Linked DNA regions of Homo sapiens. The protein of the gene in region 5 interacts with the protein of the main gene of each other region in a biochemical or structural test. Each region holds a gene or a part of one and is shown on either strand. Other genes may lie near its edges. The genes, in order: AKAP13, GTF2B, MED1, POU2F1, THRA, RANBP9 and PTGES3.

Evidence for each region.
Region 1: the proteins of THRA (region 5) and AKAP13 form a complex in vitro, tested with the Homo sapiens proteins (one study listed by BioGRID and IntAct).
Region 2: the proteins of THRA (region 5) and GTF2B form a complex in vitro, tested with the Homo sapiens proteins (one study listed by BioGRID).
Region 3: the proteins of THRA (region 5) and MED1 form a complex in vitro, tested with the Homo sapiens proteins (6 studies listed by BioGRID, with this or other methods).
Region 4: the proteins of THRA (region 5) and POU2F1 form a complex in vitro, tested with the Homo sapiens proteins (one study listed by BioGRID).
Region 6: the proteins of THRA (region 5) and RANBP9 form a complex in vitro, tested with the Homo sapiens proteins (one study listed by BioGRID).
Region 7: the proteins of THRA (region 5) and PTGES3 form a complex in vitro, tested with the Homo sapiens proteins (one study listed by BioGRID).

The regions. Positions count from the first base shown.
Region 1 is NC_000015.10:85,744,103-85,747,602, forward strand, and holds part of AKAP13 (A-kinase anchor protein 13), read left to right. Parts: intron 1-525; coding exon 526-575; 3' UTR 576-3,500. UniProt on the Homo sapiens protein: Scaffold protein that plays an important role in assembling signaling complexes downstream of several types of G protein-coupled receptors.
Region 2 is NC_000001.11:88,853,568-88,857,067, reverse strand, and holds part of GTF2B (transcription initiation factor IIB), read left to right. Parts: intron 1-3,500. UniProt on the Homo sapiens protein: General transcription factor that plays a role in transcription initiation by RNA polymerase II (Pol II). Involved in the pre-initiation complex (PIC) formation and Pol II recruitment at promoter DNA.
Region 3 is NC_000017.11:39,413,264-39,416,763, reverse strand, and holds part of MED1 (mediator of RNA polymerase II transcription subunit 1), read left to right. Parts: intron 1-1,424; coding exon 1,425-1,520; intron 1,521-1,632; coding exon 1,633-1,738; intron 1,739-3,500. UniProt on the Homo sapiens protein: Component of the Mediator complex, a coactivator involved in the regulated transcription of nearly all RNA polymerase II-dependent genes.
Region 4 is NC_000001.11:167,227,386-167,230,885, forward strand, and holds part of POU2F1 (POU domain, class 2, transcription factor 1), read left to right. Parts: intron 1-3,500. UniProt on the Homo sapiens protein: Transcription factor that binds to the octamer motif (5'-ATTTGCAT-3') and activates the promoters of the genes for some small nuclear RNAs (snRNA) and of genes such as those for histone H2B and immunoglobulins.
Region 5 is NC_000017.11:40,061,597-40,065,764, forward strand, and holds the start of THRA (thyroid hormone receptor alpha), read left to right. Parts: upstream 1-1,368; 5' UTR 1,369-1,496; intron 1,497-4,168.
Region 6 is NC_000006.12:13,701,836-13,705,335, forward strand, and holds part of RANBP9 (ran-binding protein 9), read right to left. Parts: intron 1-3,500. UniProt on the Homo sapiens protein: May act as scaffolding protein, and as adapter protein to couple membrane receptors to intracellular signaling pathways. Acts as a mediator of cell spreading and actin cytoskeleton rearrangement.
Region 7 is NC_000012.12:56,664,285-56,667,784, reverse strand, and holds part of PTGES3 (prostaglandin E synthase 3), read left to right. Parts: intron 1-1,518; coding exon 1,519-1,581; coding exon of another isoform or gene 1,582-1,629; exon of another isoform or gene 1,630-2,978; intron 2,979-2,984; coding exon 2,985-3,009; intron 3,010-3,286; coding exon 3,287-3,306; 3' UTR 3,307-3,500. UniProt on the Homo sapiens protein: Cytosolic prostaglandin synthase that catalyzes the oxidoreduction of prostaglandin endoperoxide H2 (PGH2) to prostaglandin E2 (PGE2).

The DNA.
Region 1 (3,500 bases), on a different chromosome or scaffold from region 5:
ATTCAAGTCCTCCTTGCCTTTCTGGGCCTAGAGTAGTCATTGGTAACAGCTAGCATTTGGTGATTTAACCCTCAAATGACTGTATGAAGTTGGCACTGCTAACCCCAAGAGAAGTGAGGAAACTGAGGCTCACAGAGGCTAACTAATGTGCCAGCGGCCACAGAGCCTGCGGCTGAATTCCACTAAATGCCTCCCTGTTCATGTACCACTTTTTCCCCTGAATCCTTCTCTTTAGGATTGATCTCTCCTTTCTGTGTGGGAGGTTAAAGAAAAAGTACATTTTCCTGGCCTCTTCATAAATTCTAGTGATTATTTAAAAGTTAAAGGGAGCATTAGGCAGTGAAGGATATCACTTAAGAACCTTATTAACCAAATTTGTTCAGAAACCCCGGTGCGCAGAAGAGTTAATTGCCCATAAGCCCCAGTCGCCTGTTTGCATTACAGAAGACTTTGGGATGGGGAGGAAGTTCAATGAAAGGAGCAGTTTTTCTGAATTTTTTTCATTCTTGGTTTTCACATTTCCAGATGGTCCCGCGTCAGAAGTATCAGCAGAGGGTGAAGAGATCTTCTGCTGACCCTCTTCCTCTCTGCTGAGGCAGCTGCCTCCTGATCCTGGCCAGCCCACCTCTCCTGCTGTCCCCGCGTGCACAAGTCTCTTACACTGGACGCCCACTGCTCCTCAGCGTCCAGTCCTCCTGGGCGGCCCCAGGTCCTGGACAATAAGCAACAGATGATATTGAGTGTCGGGTGGGGAAGGAGGCCCAGACTCTGCTTCGGCCATGATTTGTGACTGCCCAGGACTCTCAGGTTGGGCTGGCCCTACTCAGGATTACACTGAAAGTAATGGCCTCGTAAGTACAGGTGATGGTTTTGGACACGTCAGGAATTCCTAAAGGCTGAAAGAGTGTATCCAAGTAAGGTCTGAACCTCCGAATGCCTTTTATTTGGGGGAACACAAAACCAAACAGCAGATGTTTTGGACTTGATCTGTGTACGTACATGGGGACCTGTCTGCATATACACACGGGGAATGCCAGAAGAAGGCCCAGTCTGCACCAGGCGTCTGGTCAACTTAGCACAAGGGCAGTGCCTGGACGGACCCGGAGCCCCCGCATATCAGCAGTTCACCCAGTACTCCTCAGAGACTGGTTTCCCTCTAAACCCATCCCGGGCACATACCACCCGTGTTTTGCATGTATTTCTCATTTCATTTTAGGGATGACAAACATTTGTGAAACCAGTGAGAGAAGGCTTGATGTGTATAAAAGACGTGATGTGCACCACCTCGATCTCGGTGTTTCAGGCACTAAAGCAACAAAACAACCCATAGTATCTCATTCTGTCATCAGATCCAGAAGAAATATCCTGGTTTTCCAGCATGTTTACCCACATGTTTTGGCCATGGATAAAGTGAAGAGGCCTACTCACCATTATCCCTGCAGCGTGACACCTTTTGATTGTCACTGACCACTCAGAAGGGGCCACGGCCTCCTGGCTGTGTTCCTGAGCCCCCGTCGTGCCTCTCCCAGACAGCAGCTGTCTGGCCCTTGCTGGGTGAGGGCACACCACTGCCAGGGGTCAGCCTCGCACCCAGGCCAGGCAGAAGCTGTGCTCTGAAGCTAGGACAGCTGGCTGAGAAGTGGGTTCAGGCGAAGGGTGAAGCCATGTGTAGCAGTTCCTGCCAGTGCAGATCTGGAGAGGAGCTGGCCCGGAAGGCGTGGTTGTGAAAGCGCCCTTCTTATGTTAGGAGGCCTTGGCAAAATTGGATTTCTTCAAAAATACATGTAAAGGTCTGTTGTTGAATTGTACTCTGCCCCTGGAAGCAGATACAGATGGCTGCCTGCTGCTCGGCTTTGCTTTTGCTTTTCCCACCGTGTTTTCATCTTTGTTCACTTGAGGCTTTCCCCAGCTGGTGTGTGCAGGACAGTTCATGGTAATGTTGCCCTCTGAGGCCCCGTACACCAGAAGGGAGGCCCTGGAAAATTTTGTGCTTCCAACGTGGCCTTCAATTCTTGCTTTTTTGCCCCTCGGAAGCATGGGGCTTTTGAGCACACTTAAAAAAAGAAAAATCTGTAACTTGGTGCTTATTGATGAATTGCAAGCTGGCCTTGCAGATGGAGATATTTATCTTTCAGTTTATTTGAAAGAGGTCTGGTTTAAAATTTGTAGCCTACATTTGTTTTATTTATTGTATTTGTGTGTTTGTGTTTGTTTTTTTTTAAGGGTGAGCCAGGTCTAGCCCAACAGTCTAAACTATCCAGTCAATACCGAGTGAAGTGGCAGCCAGCACTGTTCACTCTGTGTCTTTTGAAGTGCCTTGAAGGCCCAGATGAAATTTTAAAGGGAGGGGGTCCATGTCCTTCCCTCCCCCACCCCGCCTCATTCTTTAATCAAAGGATGTCTTCTCCCTTGTTTGAGAATGAAGAAACTCGCCACCTCTGACCTACCTTTGCCTTTTTCTGTCATGGAGAATACTCACCCTTCAGAAACAGACCAAAGGCCAAAACCTGCTGATTTTTCTATTGAAAATATGTCCCCTTGCAAAGACCCTAAACAAAAAGTTAAGTTTCTTTCTTTCACCTATTTGTACAACTCCAAGTTACAGCTGAATCTGTCGTGACTTTCCTGAGATCTACCCGGGGCTTGGCTGTCTGTTCTGGGCACTGGCTCCGAGTTCCCCTCCTGGGATTTGCAGGAGGGCAGTACTGAACCTGCATTCTTCTCCTTGTAAATGTAGGCCGGGTGCCCCTGTTCTCCGGGTTTGGAACAATACGAGGTTGGTGCTGATGGGATTTACTTGCGTACGTGCTCTTCACAAAAACACCGTGGATGCTGAAGTTAGAGCACGTCGCCACAGAGCTTGACATCAATGTTAGAGGGTCTCTTACTCCCCGCCCAGCTGTGATGTTTCATCTGCTTTGGTTGTTTTGGTGGTCTTTTTTAAAAATAGAGATTTCACATCTGCCCAGACCCCACTCAAAACGATTTGGTCAGGTTCTGGTTGGACAAGTTTAAAATCAAAGTAGTGCCCGGAATTCCCTCAAACCACCCAACTTCATCCAGGAATACAGTCTGCAGTGCAGCAACAGAACCGCTTACCAAGAACTGTGCTTACATACCTTTGTCATCTCTCTTCCCCCCTTGGAAGTTGTCCTCAGGGGGATTTGTTCCTGTCCTGGGGATTTACCTGGGATGGTGGCTGCCTGTGCTTTTGCTCATGGCCTTGACAGTGCTCTAGTTGCTGGATCTAATGGCCTGTCTTGGTTTCTATCACATGAGAAGGGGTTGTTTTTTTGGGGTGACTCGGACTGAATTCCCCATACTGTTTCCACGCCGGGACACCATGTTCTCCATCAAGCTAAAGAAATCACGTGCCTGAAACTGTGCTTAAGTTTTGGGGGAAAGATGGAGTTCCTATCCAGAGCCCCCAGATTTCCAGAATCGAGTGAGCTTCCTGGAAGGAGACTGCGTCTTCTCTCAATTCCAGTCATCTCAGTCGT
Region 2 (3,500 bases), on a different chromosome or scaffold from region 5:
GCACTTTGGAAGGCCGAGGCGGGAGGATCACCTAAGGTCAGGAGTTCGAGACCAGCCTGATCAACATGGTGAAACCCCATCTCTACTAAAAATACAAAAATTAGCTGGGTGTGGTGGTGGGGCTTGTAATCCCAGCTATTCAGGAGGCTGAGGCAGGAGAATTGCTTGAACCTGGGAGGTGGAGGTTACAGCAAGCTGAGATTGTGCCATTGCACTCCAGCCTGGGCAACAGAGCAAGACTCCATCTCAAAAAAAAAAAAAAACCCACGTTTAAGACATCATTCCTCAACGTCAAAATGTTAAGAAAATATGTTTTGCTTTTTAAGCAGCTCATAAAAAAAATGTTCAGAGACATAACCCTGTGAACAAACCTAATTTTTTTCCCATTTGAATTATTTTAGTTTGTACATCTTTTATTCTTACAAGTTCTTTTTTCTCCCTGAATATATTCCTCCTGATCATTTTGAATACTCTTTTCCTTTCCAAACTTACCTTTTTAAATCTTAGGGGTCAGGGAGGCCATGCTTTGTTTCTCACTGCTTGGCATGGGATTCTACAGATAGACACACTGTAAAATACGTGTTGGCCATCAGCCTTTAACATTCTGTGAAGGTTGGTTTTTTCCCATTTTGCACAGTATTTTACAGTTTCTTAATACAAATTCTGAAATAAGTAGATGTAAGTAATTCAGCCTTCTAAAGCTATGTTTAAATTTAGTGTTGTAGGAAAACTTTCACCAGAAGTATTAAGTGAATTTCTTTTCCTTTTTTTTTTTTGTTTTTTTTTTTTTTTTTTGTTTTTGAAACAGTCTCCCTCTGTTGCGCAGGCTGGAGGTACAGTGGCACAATCTCAGCTTACTGCAACCTCCACCTCCCGGACAAGCTATTCTCATGCCTCAGCTTCCTGAGTAACTGGGACTACAGCCACGTGCCACCACGCCCAGCTAATATTTGTATTTTTAGTAGAGATGGGGTTTCACCATGTTGGGCAGGCTTGTCTCGAACTCCTGGCCTCATGTGATTCGCCTGCCTCCACCTCCCAGTGTGCTGGGATTATAGGCACAAGCCACCACACATGGCCCACTAACTCCCTTTTAAAGTTAGAAGTGACTACTCCTTTCTAAGTCTTTGAGGATTACAGAAGTTATTCATGAACAAATGCATGTAAAGAAATTCATAAACTAGGTGCGGTGACCAGCCTCCTGGCCAACATGGCAAAACCCTGTCTCTACTAAAAACACAAAAAAATTAGTCGGGTGTGGTGGCACATATCTGAATCCCATTTAGTAGGGAGGCTGAAGTAGGAGAATCACTTGAACCTAGGAGGCAGAGGTTGTAGTGAGCTGAGATCATGCCACTGCCCTCCAGCCTGGGTTGATGGAGTGAGGCTCTTTTTCAAAAAAAAGAAAAGTTGGTGGCAGGTCGCGGTGGCTCACCTGTGTAATCCCAGCACTTTGGGAGGCCAAGGTGAGTGGATTGCTTGAGGCCAGCAGTTCAAGACCAGCCTGGCCAACATGGCAAAACCCCATCTCTACTAAAAATACAAAAATCAGCCCAGCATGGTGGTGCACACCTGTAGTCCCAGCTACTCGGGAGGCTAAGAGACAAGAATCTCTTGAACTTGGGAGGCAGAGGTTGCGGTGAGCCTAGATTGCACCACTGTACTCCAGTCTGGGAGACAGGACTGTCTCAAAAAAAAAAAAAAAAAACAAAAACAGAAAGTGAATTACTGGCCTCAATAACTTTGTAATACTTTATTCACAACAGCCTTCAGCTTAGGCTATATGTTGAAAAAAGTAATAAATGATAGGAATAATTAGAGAAAGAAAGCCAATCATTAGTTATTTGAAGGAGCCATTATCCATTCCCTTTGGCCTTCACTCACGTTTTAAGGAAATTTTGAGTCTTTTAGTAAAATTGAGAAGTTGCAGCTAGGCAGTTTGTCCTTGAGGTACATTCCTAGTTGTAAAGTTTATTCTAATGAACAACATGAAAACATTAATCTTGTTGCTTTCTGCTTTTTGGCTTTATATGTAAAGTCTTCTTCAAATGTAAGGTCTTTCTCTTCCCTGCACAGCAGGCAGTTGACATTCAAATAGTTGGCATTTATTGGTATTTAGATGTAGAATAATGTAATGCAGTGTGAGATACGGAAATTTAAAATTAGCTAATTGTACAATGATGGCAGGCATTCACAGTGAAAATCACTAAAACCTCACTGATTTGAATCAACTGAAAAGGTAGTAAAATGAATTTGTATTAAAAGGTGTTTAGGCCAGGCGTGGTGGCTCATGACTGTAATCCCAGCATTTTGGGAGGCTGAGGCAGGTGGATCACCTTAGGTGAGGAGTTTGAGACCAGCCTGGGCAGCATGGTGAAACCCTGCCTCTGCTAAAAATACAAAAATTAGCTGGGCATGGTGGCAGGTGCCTCAGCTACTCAGGAGGCTGAGGCAGGAGAATTGCTTGAACCGGGGAGGCAGAGGTTGTAGTGAGCCGAGATCTTGCCATTGCACTCCAGCCTGGGTGACAGAGCAAGATTCCATCTCTAAATAAATAAATAAATGATGCTTAAAAATCCATTTTAATAAAGCATTCATAATACTTAACCAAACATTGTAGTGGCAGTCCTTTAGTATTTCTTTTAATGACTTTGAAAGGAAAAAAGGGACAGCGACTTTAAAGGGTAAAAGTGGATCTGTTAGGATTCTGTACAATGTTCGTTTGAGCTCAAAATATTTAAGTATGTGCTTGTATCAGTGAAAAACATCTCCGTATGCTATAATAAGTAGCTGTTTGATCTCTGATGTATTAAGTAGAAAAAAAGATTGTAGAACAATATTTATAGTATCACATTTTGTTTTTAATAAGGACCCCTTAACAGAAGTTAGCTAGGGGAGATTTTGCATGGGAGCTTTCAAACACAGAAATATAAAGTGAATTTCTTTACAAGAACATATTTGTGGAGTACTTTTGTGATCCTCAGAAAGATTTATAAAGAAAAAGGAGGAGTCAGTTGTAAATACAATACCCAGTATAAGATGATAACACTCCTAATACTAAGACCTGAACACTATTCATATATTTTATGTTAGTTAAACCCTTTAAAACATTGACAACCCTGTAAGGTAGTAAGTACTAGTAATCATTTTTATTGTTGCTTGTTACTGACTTTAGCTCCCACTTTTTTTTTGAGACAGTATTTGGTTAAGTATTATGAATGCTTTATTAAAATGGATTTTTAAACATCATTTATTAATTTATTTAGAGATGGAATCTTGCTCTCTCGCCAGGCTGGAGTGCAGTGGTGCGATCTCGGCTCACTGCAACCTCCTCCTCCTGGGTTCAAGCGATTCTCCTGCCTCAGCCTCCTGAGTAGCTGGGACTACAGGCGCATGCCACCACGCCTGGCTAATTTTTTGTATTTTTAGTAGAGATGGGGTTTCACCATGTTGGCCAGGATGGTCTCGATCTCCTGACCTGGTGATCCACCCGCCTCGGC
Region 3 (3,500 bases), 650 kb from region 5:
TCCTCCCACCTCAGTGTCCCAAAGTGTTGGGATTACAGGCATGAGCCACTGTGCTGGGCCAGGAGATTCTTCTCATGGAAATAAAAATTGCTTTAGAAATGAGAAATTTTTAGTAGTTGGAGTAATAACATAGAGCATATATGTTCAAAGTTGTGGCACTTCTGTTTCATGTGTTAAAATGCCTTAAGAAGTCTCCAGATAGCTTTAGGGCATTTAAAAATGAGTTTTCATAAGGCAGTTATGGAGCTAATCCTATAGAGAGGCATGCTTTTTACAAAGAAAGTATATGATCCTTGTGTCTAGGCTGCTAGCACATCTGGCATAAGAACATATGATGATGGCTAGATATATGTGGAATAAATACATTATTTTAGATTATAGCCTCTATATCTCTGCTTGCCAAACTATGGGCTGCACATCTAACAGCTGCAAACACTTGATAGAAAGCAGAGTTTATGGCAGTGGTTCTGGATATCTGCTTATCAAGTAGAATGAGACACTCGGCCACTTTTATTTTCAGAATTCACTTTTACATTTTAGGGATTAAGTTTCTTCATCTTGGAAAATTGAAAGTCTAGCTACTTTTGTTCTGGAGAAATTTATAACAAACTGGCAGGTTCCTTGGAATCTGATTCCTTCTGTCATCTGTGGATGACATATAGTAGGTTTTGTATGTGAAAAAAGTGTGCGATTTAGTTTCCAAGGAGGGAGAGAGAATTTCAGTCTGTACATTTAAGGAATGTTATTTGTGTGAAGTCTTTTTTTTTTTTTTTTGAGACAGAGTGTTGCTCTGTTTCCCAGGCTGGGGTTCAGTGACATGATCTCGGCTCACTGCAACCCTTGCCTCCCAGGTTGAAACGATTCTCCTGTCTCAGCCCTCTGAGTAGCTAGGATTACAGGTGTGCGCCACCACACCCGGCTAATTTTTTTTTTTTTTTTTTTTTTTTTTGAGATGGAGTCTTACTCTTGCCCAGGCTGGAGTGCAGTGGCACGATCTCAGCTCACTACAACCTCCGCCTCCTAGGTTCAAGTGATTCTCCTGCCTCAGCCTCCCGAGTAGCTGGGATTACAGGCATGTGCCACCACGCCCGACTAATTTTGTATTTTGTATTTTTAGTAGAGATGGGGTTTGTCCATGTTGGTCAGGCTTGTCTCGAACTCCTGACCTCAGGTGATGAGCCCACCTCAGCCTCTCAAAGTTCTGGGATTACAGGCCTGAGCCACTGCATCCGGCCTCTTTTTTTTATTTTTTAGTGGAGTTGGGGTTTCGCCATGTTGGCCAGGCTGGTCTTGAACTCCTGACCTCAGGTAATCCACCTGCCTTGGCCTCCCAAACTGCTGGGATTACAGGCGTGAGCCACCGTGCCCAGCCTGTGTGAAGTCTTATATTTGGTTGTTTTATGATCTTTCTCTTTGCCTTTTAGATTCTCCTGGGCTTCTCCAATTTGAAGTGTGTCCTCTCTCAGAGTCTCGTTTCAGCGTATCTTTTCAGCACCCTGTGAATGACTCCCTGGTGTGTGGTGAGTTGTGTGGGTGGCTAACACCTCTCATGGAGCGGTTTGGTCCCTATGTCTTTTTTGGAAAAGTCAGAAGCTAAATCTAAAACAATTTCCTATGTATTTTGTCTTTCAGTGGTAATGGATGTGCAGGACTCAACACATGTGAGCTGTAAACTCTACAAAGGGCTGTCGGATGCACTGATCTGCACAGATGACTTCATTGCCAAAGTTGTTCAAAGGTAGCCTTGGCCCTTTTTCATCTGAGTCCCATTTAGAGATGTATAAAGAATGTTGTTGAGTAGGGCGCGGTGGCTCACGCCTGTAATCCCCACACTTTGGGAGGCCGAGGCAGGCGGATCACGAGGTCAGAAGATTGAGACCATTCTGGCTAACATGGTGAACCCCCATCTCTACTAAAAATACAAAAATTAGTCAGGCGCGATGGCGGGCACATGTAGTACCAGCTACTCGGGAGGCTGATGCAGAAGAATAACTTGAACCTGGGAGGTGGAGGTTGCAGTGAGCCAAGATTGCGCCATTGCACTCCAGCCTGACGACAGAGCAAGACTCCGTGTTTTTGTTTTTGTTGTAAAAAAAAAAAAAAAAAAAAAAAAAAAAAAAAAAAAAAAAGGCCGGGCCTGGTGGCTCACGCCTGTAATCCCAGCACTTTGGGAGGTGAAGGCGGGTGGATCACGAGGTCAGGAGATTGAGACCATCCTGGCTAACACAGTGAAACCCCGTCTCTATTAAAAATACAAAAAATTAGCCCGGCATGGTGGCGGGCGCCTGTAGTCCCAGCTACTAGGGAGGCTGAGGCAGGAGAATGGCATGATCCCGGGAGGTGGAGCTTGCAGTGAGCCGAGATCATGCCACTGTACTCCAGCCTGGGCAACAGAGTGAGACTCTGTCTCAAAAAAAAAAAAAAATGTTGTTTTCAGAATTAGCATGAATTTCAAATAAAGGAGCAATTTAGTTATTGCTTTGATTTCACCCTTCTCTGCTTTCGGATTCAAAGTAATCTAAGCTTTGTTTTTTTTTTTTGAGATGGAGTCTTGCTCTGATGCCCAGATTGTACAGTGGTACAATCTTGGCTCACTGCAACCTCTGCCTCCCGGGTTCAAGTGATTCTCCTGCCTCACCCTCCTGAGTAGCTAGGATTACAGGCATGTGCTACCACACCTGACTCATTTTTGTATTTTTAGTAGAGACGGGGTTTCACCATGTTGGCCAGGCTGGTCTCGAACTCCTGACCTCAGGTGATCTGCCTGCCTTGGCCTCCCAAAGTTCTGGGATTACAGGCGTGAGCCACTGCACACAGCCAGCTTTGTTTTTTTTTTTTTTTTTTTTTTTTTAATGATATTACTATGAGAGTAATGGGAAGTAAAGTAGGTAACTTCAGGCCTGGAATTATGGTACTTTAAGGCAGGAGAAAGCCATAATAAAATACAGATATTTTTCTTACCTATCCTGTGTGCCAATTCTTCATAGATGTGACATTTTTATCTTTTTATTCTTTTATTTTTTTATTTTGAGACAAGAGTCTCACTCTGTTACCCAGGCTGGAGTGCAGTGGTGTGATGACGGCTCACTGAAGTGTTGACCTCCGAGGTTCAGGTTATCCTTCCACCTAGACCTCCTGAGTAGCTGGTACTGCAGGTGTGAGCCACTGTGTCTGCCTGAGCAGATTTCACAACTTAAATGTTAGGCTGGGCGTGGCAGTGCATGCCTGTAATCCAGCACTTTGGGAGGCCAAGGCGGGCAGATTACTTGAGGTCAGGAGTTCGAGACCAGCCTGGCCAACATGTTGAGATGTCATCTCTATAAAAATACGAAAATTAACCGAGCATGGTGGTATCCGTCTGTCATTCTAGCTACTTGAGAGGCTGAGGCAGGAGAATCACTTGAACCTGGGAATCGGAGGTTGCGGTGAGCCAAGATTGCGCCACTGTTCTTTAGCCTGGGTGATAGAGTGAGATTCTGTCTCAAAACAAACAAACTAAC
Region 4 (3,500 bases), on a different chromosome or scaffold from region 5:
AGATATAAACAGGAATGGCTGGAAAATGAACAATATGCTGTGTGTTAAACGACTCATTTGTGCTTAAACATATGATTACCTTAATGGAGTTGCACTGATACCTTAAAGGGAATATATTTTTATATGGAAAAGTGACTTAGGTGTTTTCTTGTTTTAGTACACTTATTTTAGTGGTCTGCTTAATGAAAAATACAGCCTTTTTTGGCTGATTCATACTGCAGCAAGCAATATTATAATTAATGTTTTAAAGTAGTTACCATCCTAGTCTATAAAAGGTATCTGCTATGTACCTGGTCCTATGCCTGTAGTCTTTGGGAATAACAAGGAAATATGACTGCTGCGGAGGAGTTGGTATGTTTACTTAAGCAGGAAAAATTGAAAAACAGTGTATATAATTACATATTAAAATATGTAACAGATAATGAAGATTGGAGAATAGATCAGAGTGTGTCCAAGTTTGAAAGAGCCAGAGCATCCTAGAATATATTATAGCTGGAAGGTAATTTAGATATAATCTTTGCTAAAGGTTTTGCTTCACAGATGAGGAAATATTTTCACAATGGTTTAGTGACTTGCTCACAGTCACTTAACTATTCAGTAACAGATAAGAACACAAGACTTCTAACTTTCTCCCACCTCCCAGTCTCTCCTCCTGCCCCATTGCTGTCAGTCAGAGAAGGCTTTATGTAGAAGGCGAGACTTTTAAACCGAGCTTTAAAGGGCAAAAAGAATTTAGAGGAATGGGAATACAGAGAAGGCCATTGAAGGGGAGATTGTGTTCAACATTGTGATGTATAGGTAAAGAATGAGGAAGCATTTGTTCTATCTGCAGGAAAGCTGTTGGAGGATTTTGAAATAGGGACTGATGTGATAAAAATGGTGTGTTAGGAGTAATGTGGTGTGCAGGATGGTTTGAAATAGGAAGGGAGAGATTAGATCCATAGAAACCAGTGTATAGAGGTATTTGGTTTATTAACTAATTACTGTAGGTGCTACTAGAGATACAAACATAATTTAAAAATTACTTGACCTCAAGAGACTTCCAGTCTAATTTATGAAATAGATAAGTCGTGATAAAGGTGTTGAGGATATTGTCCAATTACATTACATGGAATAAGGACGTTTGGGAGAAATTCTTACCTGGCCTTTACAGTAGAAACTATTTGTTTTTAGTCTTATGGACACTGAATTGTCTAATTGACTTAGTTTCCTTTTCAAATCAAACTACAGTTTGATTTGGTCAAATTTAGGTCAGATTATTAACCTGAGAAGCACATGCATAGGCAATTACGTTTGCATTTCTTAGCCTGATTAGTAGATCAATTTTTTGTCCATGCATTTGTTTTGTATTTCTTGTATTGCTTCCATCTTTAAACTCTTTTTATCTTGTTTTATGTGGGCCACCTTACATCCTTTCTGGAGCAAGGCAGGTATAAATAATATTACCATAACCATGGCACAGTGATAATGTCTGTATTTTTATAGTACTTTAAAATTTATAGCCACATTCTCATTTTCATTACCTCAGTTAGTCCTTTCAGGCAAGCGTTACTATACCCATTTTATAGTCGAGTAAAATAAAACTTAGATTAAGTGACTTTCTCAAGGTCCTGTGTTTTTATAAGCATTAAGTGTGGGTAATAGCAAGACTTCCAGCTTAGTTGTTATTTAGGCTGTGTATTAAGGCACTTTGGGGCTCTATTGTGGAGAGCTCTGAATCCTTTGTGTTGGTGTAAGAGTTTGGATTTTATTTGCTAGGCAGTAGGAAGTCACTGAATTTTTTTTTTTTAATTTTTTTTTGTTATGGACAGTGCCATGATCAGAGCCCTTAAAGTTTAGCAGCTAATTAGATGCAAAGAGATTATCAAGGTTTTGAGTTTAGGTTATCCAGAAAAGAGCATTACCATAAGCAGATGTAGGGATGTTGGGAAAAGGAGCCATTTGGGGAGTAAGTCAGTGAATTCACTTTGACATGTCATTTGAGACATGTTTGGGTGGGTCTTATTGGGTTGTAGATTCCTTGTGAAAATTGAAAATTTTTTAGTGAATTAAATGTTTGATAAACATTAATACTAGGGTTGAAATTTATGCTCATGCCACTGTGCGTGTGGACTGAGTATTGAATCTGAACGTTGTAAATTCTAGATATCTCATTTTGGCTTTGGCACTGTCTTCTAAGGTTATTTCCTTCAACAATACGATGGTGATAATACCAGTGTTAGAGGGATGCTGTGGGGAGTATCAAATTGATAGCAGAAGCATTTTTAAAGTAACTCTGTAATAGTTTTTCTTACATGAGCACAGGAGTAAAATCAGGAATTTTATTACTTGTGCTGCTGTAGAGAAGCAGAAGCTTTAGCAGCCGATGGATTCTGTGGGGCACCTGACTGTAGGTTGTTCATTTTTTGGTGCAGCCAGCATCTTAGGAGGAATGGACACTCCTAATACTCTTCTGAAAACTTTATACAGTGGAGGTGTTGCATTGTAGCAAATACAACTTACCTTGATTTCAGGGCATTCTGTTATCTAGCCCCTACCCTTGCCTATGCATTATTATCTTTACTACTTCCTTAAATAGCATGACTCAACAATTCCATCAAGGAAGTTCCCTTATTGTCCATTTCTACCACAAATACAGCATATTATCAGATTTTAATTTTTAAAGAAATTTCCCTAAAATTTGAAGATCTATCTTGGGAGGATGGCTATAATTTATCCTGAGACTTACCTGAGCCTTTCTCCCATTACCATCCTTGCAACACCAATCCCAGTTTGAGACACATGACCTGAATGTGTACCCAGTGTTTTGGTCAAGCCAGTGTGTTTGGGACGTTGTGTGAGAACCTTTACTCACACTTTTTCCTCCATTGGAAGGCCATGGTGTATGGTATGGTAGAGTGAAAAAAGGTACTGGGGGGTTCAGAGACCTGGCTTCTCTGTCACTAATTAGCTTAGTAACTTTAGGACAAGTTACTTCACCATGGATTTTTTTTTTAATTGCATTTGTAAAATAAGGGATTTCAAACTTTTAAAAGCCTTTGGTGTTCTTTTTTAAAGGCAAAAGTGGAGCTGTTCTGATTAAAATTGGATATTGGAGCAAGAAAAGCATTTTCCTCCTCCTTTCCACAGTAGCTTTTGAGGCACTTTCACAGGGTCCTTAGGACTTCTGCTGGTCATGACTTGAAAACTTTTGTCCTTATTTATCTTAAGGGACCTGTCTGTCCATTTCTTTATCTCCACAAATAGCCATCTGTCAAATCTGAGCTCCTGTCATACTTTCTCTGAAATTAGCACTTAATTTGTGTTCAGTTACCCAATTCAGCACTTCATTATACACAGTCCTATTTTCTTCTCTAATTGATTATGTAAGTAAATCTTGTCCTAAGAGCCTTGAGTGCAGGAACATACTGGTAGGGACAGAGTAGGCCTAGACATTTAACAAATAATGAATGCTTGGTTGATGGACTTAGTGGTTCTCAATCTTTGTCACCATGGGGTGA
Region 5 (4,168 bases):
ACTAAGACATGAGCAAGGGCAGCCCAACTTGGGTAAGCTGTGGCTCAGAATCCCACACTCGCCAAGTGACTCTGCCCAGTATAAACTGGGCGATTAGCCGAGCAGCTCCCCCTAACACACACACACTTACACACACACACACTCACACACACACCCCTCCCCAAGAGCAGACTATGTAGCCAGGGCCCCACCCTGAGAGCCGTGGGAAGGCTGTGGCCCCCGCTGGTAAAACTGGGCTAATGACAGCAGGGGAACCGGCGGGGCCAGGGGGGTGCTGGGGTAATTAGGGCTCGGCCTGGCGCTAGGAGATCCTGAGATGAAAGGTGCTCTGGCGTCACTGGGTTGGTTTTATGTCCATGAATGCAGGTGTGTGGTGTGTGTATGTGTGTGCTGGGGGTGGGGCTGGCATGGTGGAGACCTCTCCTTTGGGTTGGGTTAGGGGGTCCATTTGTATGCAGCCCACCGTCTTCCTTAGATTGACTCTGGTACCATTTGGATTTTTGTGGGAGCAAACATGGGGGGAAATACCACCACCCGGGAGCTAGGAATTGAGGGGGTATGGCAGATCTTGTCCCCTCCCCGAGCTCAGGAGAGGGAGCAGATTGTTGGGGGAAATGGCTGGTGACAGAGAATAGAAAGAGCCTATATGGAGAAGGGTGACGTTGGAAAAGGGAGGCAGTGGATCGGTATTGATGTTAGAAATGAGAGGGGAGGGAGGTAACAGGGAATGAACCCCCACAAGGATGAAAAACGTAAGATGATTGAAGTTAAAAGGACATCAGGGGTCACCTGCCCAGCCCTCGCAGCTGAAGCTTGAGGAAGCTCTGCCCCCGACAGCAGTGGCGATTTGTCAAGGTCACACAGTGAGTTACCGGCGGAGAAGGGACCCGAACTCCCAAACAAACTACACCTGCAAGCGTTTGGTGTTTAGACTTTCTCCCCGATGTATAAGGTGCAGGCTGCTCGTCGATACTTCCTCCTCCACCCTCACGGTGCACACCCGAAAACCCCCCAATTCTCCCGGCAAGCAAAGGCTATTTTTTAATGACATCTTTTCCAAAATATGTCACCAAGTACCCACTCCTGCGGGAGCCGCCCGGGCTGGGGAGGGCGAGTCCGAGCGGGGCGGGGCAGAGGCGGCCGAGGGGCGGCCGGACCTCTGGCGGGGGTCCCGGGGCGCGGCAGGGGGCGGGGGGCGGGGGCGGGCGGCGGCGAGGCGGCCTGCAGGGAGCAGCCGCGAGCCGGCCGGGCGCGCCGAGCCCGAGCCCCAGCCGGAGCGGGGCGGGGGAGGGAGGAGCCAGAGCGGCCGCCGCCTCTGCCGGAGGAGCCGCGGGGCCGCCACACTCGCCCCCCGCCCCCCCCGCGCTCACTCGCACTCACACCCGGGCGCAGGAGGCGGGCGGCCCGGGCCCCACCGGCCCCCCATGGACGCCCCCAGCACGGGGCGCTGAGACCCCCGCGTCGCTGCCCAGCCCGGTCCGGCGCGCCACGCCGAGGTAAGGAGGAGGGAGCGAGGGGGCATTAATATGCAAATGCCTTGCGATTGATTATGCAAAGCCGCGGGGCTCCGTGGCCAGCTCCCAGGCGGGCTAGGGGCGCCCAGGGGGTGCCTGCTGCCAGCCTCAGCCTTTCCTGGCGCCCCAGTGACCCTGTCACGAGCCCGGGAGCTTGCAACTGACGCCCTGGGGAAGGGAGGTGTTGCTAGGAGGTCGCTGGGCCCCGGGGTTCGCAGGCGGAGATGGCGTCCGAGCCTCCCCCTGGAGGGCCCGCCCGGCCTCTGTCCGGCCAGTCTGCTGCGCATTCCCGGGCCGGGCCCCGTTGCCGGCCGCCGGAGCTCCCCCGCCCGCCGCGCCGCGGTTTGTTTACGGTGCGCCGGAGGCCTGCCCCCCCAGCCCCCACCCCTAGCCTCTGAGGCCCGAGTGGCCTTTGCAAAGCTGCCTCCAGCTGCGGAGGGCAGTATGAGTGCGGTGGCGCGGGTGGGCTTGCACGGGTCCGGGGAGAGGGAAGTTCCCCCGCCTCACCCGCCTCCCGGTTGAGCATGGCTGTCTGGTTGCAACACTGCTAATTGCAAAAACGCGGTTGTTGGGGGGGAATGTGTGTGTGGAAGGGGTGTACTTGGTGGTGCCTAGATGATTAGGAGAGTTGCTGGCTGGGGAGGAGAGGGAGAAATGGACCTGTGTGTGTGTACCCCACCTTGTTTCCCTCCCCTTGCAACGTGTCTCTGGTGCCCCTTCTCCATCTGGGGCCCTCCCTTGTCCAGCGTGAAAGAAAGGCCTGGGGGGATGACAGGGGCAATTGAAAGAACCACCGTTCCAGGGGTGGGGGTGGGGGACACAGAAGGAAAGCCAGTGAGGTGGGAGCCTGCCCCTCAGTGCTGGCTTTGGCTCCAGGAGGGGGAGGGGATGAAGGGGGCTGTTGTCCAAAATGAGGGGGGAAGCAAAAGTGACACGCAGACACAGAGATATGTCCACACAGACAGCCACATGCACATCCAGGGACACCCAGGCAGACTCAAGGACAGGAGCTACTGGACACACCCACATGGGGACAAGGGAAGAGACAGGCTGCTGCTGCACCGTGGAGCTCTGAGGGGTGGGATATACCCATGGGAGACCAAGAGCATGGGGACCGATCCATGCACATACCCACGCACAGGGTCACACGTAGATGCTGTCACACACTGGGGCAAGGAGGAGTTGCTGTCACCCACACATAAAAAGTCACTGTCACATGCATGCATGCACACAGAGCAATTGCACACAGCAGCACAATTACAAAAGACCCTGTCACTCACAGGCACACACGTGCTCGCATGAGCCCAGTCACACAGACATCATTGCTTGCCGTGACAGTCGCTGTCACTCAGTCAGATGCAAACACAGTTACACACCAACACATGTATACACAACTTAGCAACAAGTATTTTCCTGGACTCTTTACTGTGGAGCTCTGAGGTTCTGTAGGCAACAAAACCCTTGCTCCCAAGAATATTAAATTTGGCTGTATGAAAAAGTGTTCCTGCGTAATGGTGTAAAGCATGCATTCCCAATGACATGTTCTTGGTCTCTATCGCTTGAGATACCACCCTACTAGACAGTGAGCTCTTGGAGACCTGGGAGAATCACTTAAAGAGCTCTGGATCCCACGCAGAGCCTAGCACAAGGGCTGCTCTGTAAATACTTGTTAGTTGATTGACTGTGGAACCTGCAGACACAGGTGCACTCATTTGCACATGGTCCCCTGAACTCAGGTGCAGAATGAGTTCACAAGGCCCAGGTCCCCACAGTTGCAGGTCCACACCAACAGTCGTGTCCACACAACCCCAGATACACACAACTGCAGCCTGTGCAGCCGAGCACACACTTAGATGCACACAATCACAAATTTTTCCCCTTCAGCTTCCTCCTCCCCTTTTTCCTCTAGGCTCAGCCACTGTGCGGGAATGGGCTGTTTTTTTTTTCTTTCTTTCTTTTAGAGGGACAGAGAAACAAGAGCAAAGACAGTGGGTTCAGGGGGGTTCCAGAGGGCCGAGTCATGGGCTCAAAGCAGTGTCCAGTGACTTCTAGAAGCTAGGATTCTCTTGACTGTTGGGGAAGGGGAGAGCTGCTCTCCTCCCTACCCTAAAAGCTCAGGGGTGTCTAACTGCCCCTGCTCTGAGTCATTTGCCTGGGTCTTTCCTGGGAACAGTCAGTCACTTCCAGCTGAGTTCCTGCGCCCCACCTTGAGTCTGGCCCTTTTTCCCACCTGTACCCTCCTGTCCAAACTTGGAAGCTTTCCTTAAGAGGCCATCGGCTGGCGAGTGTCTGTGTGAGTGATATGTACTTTTGACTTGGAATTTCTCTCTAACTCTGTCTCTCTGTTGCTCTGTCTTGCAGTGTCTGATTCTCCCTCTCTCTCTCCTTGTTTCTCTGCCAGTCTGTAACTCTCTCTCACCCTGTTGCTACCCCCGATCTACCCCTGTCCTTGTCTCAGAGCTGGGGACTGGCAGCAATGTTCTTCATACTTTTCCAGTTGTTAATACCCAAGCTCCGCCCCTCTGCCCCCCCTGCGCAGCCTCTGGGGTCAGCTTGAGGTTGGGGTGGGGGGCGGGGGGCTCAGCTGGCTGCTCAGGACTTCCTGCACTTCCTTAGTGCCGCAGCTGTGGCCAGCAAGTTTTAGGGGCTGGGAA
Region 6 (3,500 bases), on a different chromosome or scaffold from region 5:
CTCTTTTATTACAAAGTGATCTATGTCCACGGCAGTCTTCACCTCTTCCACTATTATCAAAGAACAGTCTGTACTCTCCTCTCCAAGACCAACCATTCTGGACTCTGGAACCAGTTTCCTCTCTAGAAGCCTCTCTGTCAGCCTCTCAAGCTTGTATTTCATTATCTTCCTCTCTAATCTCTCCTTCCCCTCAATCTGTAAAGGGACAATGTCCCCAAAATGTACACTTTTCACAAATTCTATGCCTCCGTGCTACATATAAATCATTGTCAGTAATGTACCAGAGTTGGTGGTATATAATTTTTTACCTTAAAAGTAATAACAAGGCTGGGCGCAGTGGCTCATGCCTGTAATCCCAGCACTTTGGGAGGCCAAGGTGGGTGGATCACTTGAGGTCAGGAGTTCGAGACCAGCCTGGCCAACATGGTGAAATCCCATCTCTACTAAAAACATAAAACTTAGCCAGGCATGGTGGCGGGTGTGTGTAATCTCAGCTATTCGGGAGGCTGAGGGAGGAGAATTGCTTAAACCTGGGATCCGGCCTGACAAAGCGAGACTCTGTTCAAGAAAAAATAGTAATAATAACCAGGTAGGCTAATCAATTTTATTTGTTAAAATGTTAAATTTTGTATACATTTCCTGGAACACCATACCTTGGACTAATATAATATAGTATTTTCATTTAATTTATGTCGCTTCAGTTTTACCTATACAACCAAATTAAAACAAGATTGACTAAGAAATGACACAGTGGTCTCTAACACAATACTTTCCAAAGGAATTTTTAAGGATAATTTTGGTTATGTAGGATTTTCATCTTCTATGCTGACATTAGAAGCTAAACACCAGGTAAAACGTAACTCCACTATCAGCCGTTAAAAATTAGAAGAAAAAAAAAATCCTACCTTAACCTCCATCCTCCTCTAGGAAATGCCTCATCTCTTCCTTCATCTATATTTCTCAAGGATAATCTCTATTCACTATCCTCTCTACTTGGTCCTTTCATTTACTCTTTCAACCCACTGAAATCTGGTTTTTGCCCCATCACTCAATTCAAACTGCTCTCCCTAAAGTCACAATGATCTAATTTCCAAACGTAGTGGAAAACTATCTGTGCCTATCCTACTAAACCTATCTGTTGCAACAGACACTAAATATCACTTCCTCATTTCTAGGGAAGGTGGGGAGGCTGTTTGAGACAGTGTCTCATTCTGTTGCCCAGGCTAAAATGCAGTGGCATGATCACCGCTGGCTACAGCCTCAACTTCCTGGGTTCAAGCAGTCCTCCCACCTCGACTTCCCCAAGTTTTGGGATTACAGGTGTGAGCCACTGCACCCTCCCGTGCTCAGCTTCTGTGACACCAATCTCCTTGATGTCTGGGGACCTACCATTTCTTTTGTGCTCCCTCTAGTCTTTCAATGTTGGTGTTCTTCAGGGTCCCCATCTTTGGCCCACTGCTTTTTCTCACTCTATTCTCCCTCTCTCTTTCAAATACTCTGAGTTTCAACTACCACCTACAAGTGACTCCTAAATCAGTCACGACCTAGACCTCTCTCCCAAGCTTCAGATCAATTATGGTTAACTGCCAACCCTTCCTAGGAGAAACTGCCTCACACATTGCCCCTACCGAAAGAAGTGAGACCCAGACTATCCTTGTACCAGCAGGGTATTTTGTATTTTATAATTACCACCATTCCTACAGCTGATTCAACACAGGTTAGCACCTGACTTGAAGGCCACCAATTCACAACATAGTCTGTATTGAAAAGCTCTGCCCAACTAAGAATCATAGCAATTAGCCAGGCCAATCTGTTAAGTCTCTCAGGAATTTGACATAGGAAGGAAAGGATAAGCCAGTCAGTAGGGAAAAAGAAATAAAACAACCAGAAACTAGTGATTGGAGCTGAGTCATTTTAATAGAATAGAATTAAGTCATGACTATTAAGACCAGTTAGAGTCCCCTTAACTCCAAAAGACCTGTTCCTGTTCTTTCTGTAAGGCTTGTTTCTTTGGCTTCTTCTGGTTTCCATGAAGTCAGATCACAGGGCTGAGATTCCCATTTTTACTTATCTCCAACTATACTGTAATACAGTCTCCTTCACAATCATTATTTTATTCATGGTTCACTGCAAGAGCCTAACAGCTAAAGACCCAAACATCATCCTAACAGAGTTGGAAACCCAAACATTTTCTTTGATTTCTCTCACTATCATTCCTCATATCCTCTCAGTATTACTTTTAAATATCTCACAAATATATCTGCCTTTCTCTGGCCTTACCACTGACCCAGCTGAGGTCAATTCTAACATGGTCTACTGCAATAGTCTTCTAAATGAATTTACTATTCCCACTCTTGTAACCTCTTGAATCTATCTTCCAATCAGCTGCGTAATCTGACAAAAATGAAGATATGAGCCAGTCACTTCCCATTTAAAATCCTTTGATGATTCTCCATCTCCTACAGAATAAGATCTAAACTCAACAAAATATTCCATAGGGCTCCTAACTGGGCCAGGTACAGTGGCTCCTGCCTGTAATCCTAGCACTTTGGGAGGCTAAGGCAGGCAGATGGCTTGAGCTCAGGAATTCGAGACCAGCCTGGGCAACATGGCAAAACCCCCTTCTCTACAAAAAAATACAAAAAATTAGCTGGGAATGGTGGCACGTGCCTGTAGTTGCAGCTATTCAGGATGCTGAGGTGGGAGGATCACTTGAGCCCAGGAGGCAGAGGTTGCAGTGAGCCTAGATCGCACCACTGCATTCTAGCCTGGACAATGGAGTCAGACCCTGCCTCAAAAGAGAAAAAAAAAAAAGCCTCCTAATTGATCTTTTCCCAGATGCTCCTTGTCACATACTCTAAATGCCAACCCAAAATTGCTTGTAAAACCAGACACATAAAGTAATTCTCTATGTTTTTGCTTTTCCTTCATTTGCAACACCTAGCCCCTCCCTTTCTCCTATATCCTACTCATCTTTTAAGACTGACCACTAGCCTCGACTCCTCCAAGAAGCTATCCCTGATACCTACACTTCCTTCATTCTTTCCAATGTCAGCCTGGGTTATACGCTCCTCCTATTTTCCACAGTACTCTCTATAATATTTCCCTTACTACTCTATTTTATGTCCTCTGAGCTCTCTGAATTCAATGACAGTATCTTCTCCACCTCTGAGTGTCCAGAACCTAGCACAAAGTAAACATTCACTAAAAGCTCATTAAATAAATGAAGAAATGAACAGTGAAAAACACATATAAATTGTCTAGTCTAGCAGAATATATATCATTAGGCTGGGTGCAGTGGTTCACGCCTATAATCCCAGCACTTTGAGAAGCCAAGGCAGGCGGATCACTTGAGGTCAGGAGTTCCAGACCAGCCTGGCCAACATGGCAAAACCCCATCGCTACTAAATATACAAAAATTAGCCAGGCGTGGTGGCAGGCGCTTGTAATCCCGGCTACTTGGGAGGCTGAGGCTGGAAAGTCACTTGAATCCAGGAGAT
Region 7 (3,500 bases), on a different chromosome or scaffold from region 5:
CTATAGGCATAATGCTGTACAGTAGTAGGTCTCTGGAACTATGCATTTTGTGTAATTGGAATTTGATACCTATTTAACAGTAGCAACTCTGCATTTTCCTTCCCCCCAGCTCCTGGCATCTACCATTCTACTCTCTATTTTTGTGTGTCTGACTATCTTAGGTATCTTACATAATCTTAGGTATCTCATATAAGTGGAATCATGCAGTATTTGTCCTGTGACTGGCTTATTTCACATAGCATGACGTGCTTCAGATTCTTCATTGTGTTTTGTCACATAAGGCAGATTTTTTTCTTTAAGGCTGAATGATACTTTTAGGCTGAACACATTCCATTGTATGTTTGACTATCTTTTTAAGGTCCTTTCCCATTCTAAAATCTGGGTAATCATGTATTTTTGAAGTTTGATTTTTTTTCCATGCATATGTGATTTTATTTTTCTAAAATTTAAACATTACAAAAATGGTTTAAACTTGAGAAAATAAGTTTCTCATCATCTGATAATAGTTTAAGTTTAAATCATTTCTTGGTTCTTCACAATATCTAAAACCATGATGAGAATACCAGGCCTGGCACAGTGGCTTGCTCCTGTAATCCCAGCACTTTGGGAGGCCGAGGCAAGGGGATCACTTGAGGCCAGGAGTTCAAGACCAGCCTGGCCAATATGGTAAAACCCTGTCTCTACCAAAGATACAAAAACTAACTGGGCGTGGTGGCATCTGCCTGTAATCCCAGCTACTCAGGAAGCTGAGGCAGGAGACTCCCTTGAACCCGGGAAGCGGAAGTTGCAGTGAGCCGAGATTGTGCTGCTGCACTCCAACCTGGGCAACAGAGCAAGACTCCATCTCAAAATAAAAAAGGCTTGGCATGGTGGTTCACGCCTGTAATCCCAGCACTTTGGGAGGCCAAGGTGGGTGGATCACTACAGCCCAGGAATTCGAGACCAGCCTGGGCAACATGGTGAAACCCCGTGTGTACCAAAATACAAAAAATTAGTTGGGTGTGGTGGTACGCGCCTGTAATCCCAGCTACCCTGGAGGCCGAGGCATGAGAATTGCGTGAACCCAGAGGCGGAGGTTGCAGTGAGCTGAGATCACGCCACCATACTCCAGCTTGGACGACAAAGCTAGACTCTGTCTCAAAAAAAAAAGAATACCTTAATACATGTTCCACCTAACTTAAGATAGATAGCTGTGCAACTACAAATGAATCCCATTCTTTTCCTTAACCACCAGAGGTAACCACTACTCAAGTAGAATTTTTAATGTTTGTCAAACCTGTTGCATGAATAGCTTTGCTTTTCTTTAGGGAAAATTTAGTTTTAATTTCCATATGGGTTTTTAGGATTTTGTATAATTACCTATAATCTTCCTTTTCCAGAAGGGAAAGATGCTTATATTTGCATTTTGCATTTTTTGATATCTGTGGCAGACTTAAGGTTTATTCTGAAGCATACAGCATTAATAATTAGGGCCTAACTTAACATCATTTTTAAAACTAATTTTTACACTTCAAATAGATGATGAACAACATGGGTGGTGATGAGGATGTAGATTTACCAGAAGTAGATGGAGCAGATGATGTAAGTCTAAAAATTCTTTTTTCTGTTTACTTTCATACTATTAAATAGTAAGAAACAACATATTTACAAATGGTTTTATATAGATTCACAATTACTTCTTATTTTCTAAAAAAAAAGAAAAGGGAAAAGCAATTTTTAAAATGTGCCCATTTTTGACGAATGGGGGTATCTATTAGGGAACTGGTTGTACCGTAGACCATTCCTAAATGGATTAGATTTCCAAAGAATCATTGTATAGAGACATTATATATTAATACCGTACTCAATTATAACAGTCAGTTTAGGCCGGGCGAGGTGGCTCATGTCTGTTATCCCAGCAGGCCAGGTGGGCAGAGTACGTGAGGTCAGGAGTTCGAGACCAGCCTGGCCAACATGGTGAAACCCTGTCTTAAAAACTTAGCCAGACATGATGGCAGGTGCCTGTAATCCCAGCTACTGGTGAGCTGAGGTGGGAGAATCGCTTGAACCTGGGAGGCGGAGGTTGCAGTGAGCCAAGATCACACCATTGCACTCCAGTGTGGGCAGCAGAGCGAGGCTCCATCTCAAAAAGAAAGAAGAGAGTCAGTTTATAGGTATGATTTTGACTAAGAAAGTAAGTTAAATAGGTTTTATGTCAGGATTGGTCAGAGACCGATAAAACAGATGGACATTGGGAGGCGGAGATGGGTGGATCATGCGGTCAAGAGTTTCAGGCCAGCCTGGCCAAGATGGCGAAACCCCATCTCTACTAAAAATACAAAAATTAGCCGGGCATGGTGGCGGGTGCCTGTAATCCCAGCTACTTGGGAGGCTGAGGCAGGAGAATCGCTTGAACCCGGGAGGCAGAGGTTGCAGTGAGCCGGATCTCGCCACTGCACTGTAGCCTGGGTGACAGAGCAAGACTCCATCTCCCCCCACCCAAAAAAAAAAAAAAAAAAAAGATGGACATTGGAAATCTGTAAGAGGAAGATACACTAAACTACTTTTCTCAACATCTTTCCAACCCCAGCATCCTGTTAACATCTCCCAGAAAGTTATTTAATGCTATTTAGAAAAACACTTAATATTCACTCAACAGCTAGGATTAGAGTTCACTGTCTTCTATCAGTCCATTTTTCTTCATATTGATCCATGTTTTCTCTTTGAATGCCGAGATAGGTTAATTTAGGAATGGATTCAACGGGTGGGCTAAATTGTCACCAAAAGGCACACATCATTTTTTATAGGTAGATAAATCCTCTGCTGTACATCCATTCACCTTAGGTAAACCTAGTCAAGTCCAATGACTAAATTTCTAGGCTTGATATGACTACCTACCTGTGCTACTTTAGTCAAAAATATAGCACTTGAACTTTTTTAGGTAAACTGTTCAGTTAGCAAACGAATATTTGATCAGCTCGGTAACTTTATTTTCCCTCTTTCAGGATTCACAAGACAGTGATGATGAAAGTAAGTGTATATAAAAAGTATGTTTATACAGTGATACTTTGCATCAAAAAACAAACTCAAAATAGAGATGTTAACTTCTTTGGAAGTAAAGTAATTTTTTCTTTATGACCTTGAATAAATAACCAAAGCAGAAATGTGAATAACTTGATAGCAAGACAACCTATTAATTCATTGGGCAACTATGTATTTCGATTTTTGGTTGCTTTTCCTTTAAGACAGTAAAATTGGTAGATTATTCACTTGTACTATATACTAATATTTTTAAAAATTCTTTCAGAAATGCCAGATCTGGAGTAAGGAATATTGTCATCACCTGGATTTTGAGAAAGAAAAATAACTTCTCTGCAAGATTTCATAATTGAGAGAATTCCTGAGTTGATAGCTCTAAAGGCAGATATGCTGTATTTGCCTACTTTAACCCATTTTTCAACCTGTTTGTTTTTTAAAAGGCTTCACTAAGGGTTGATATGTACCATTGTATGGGGCAATTT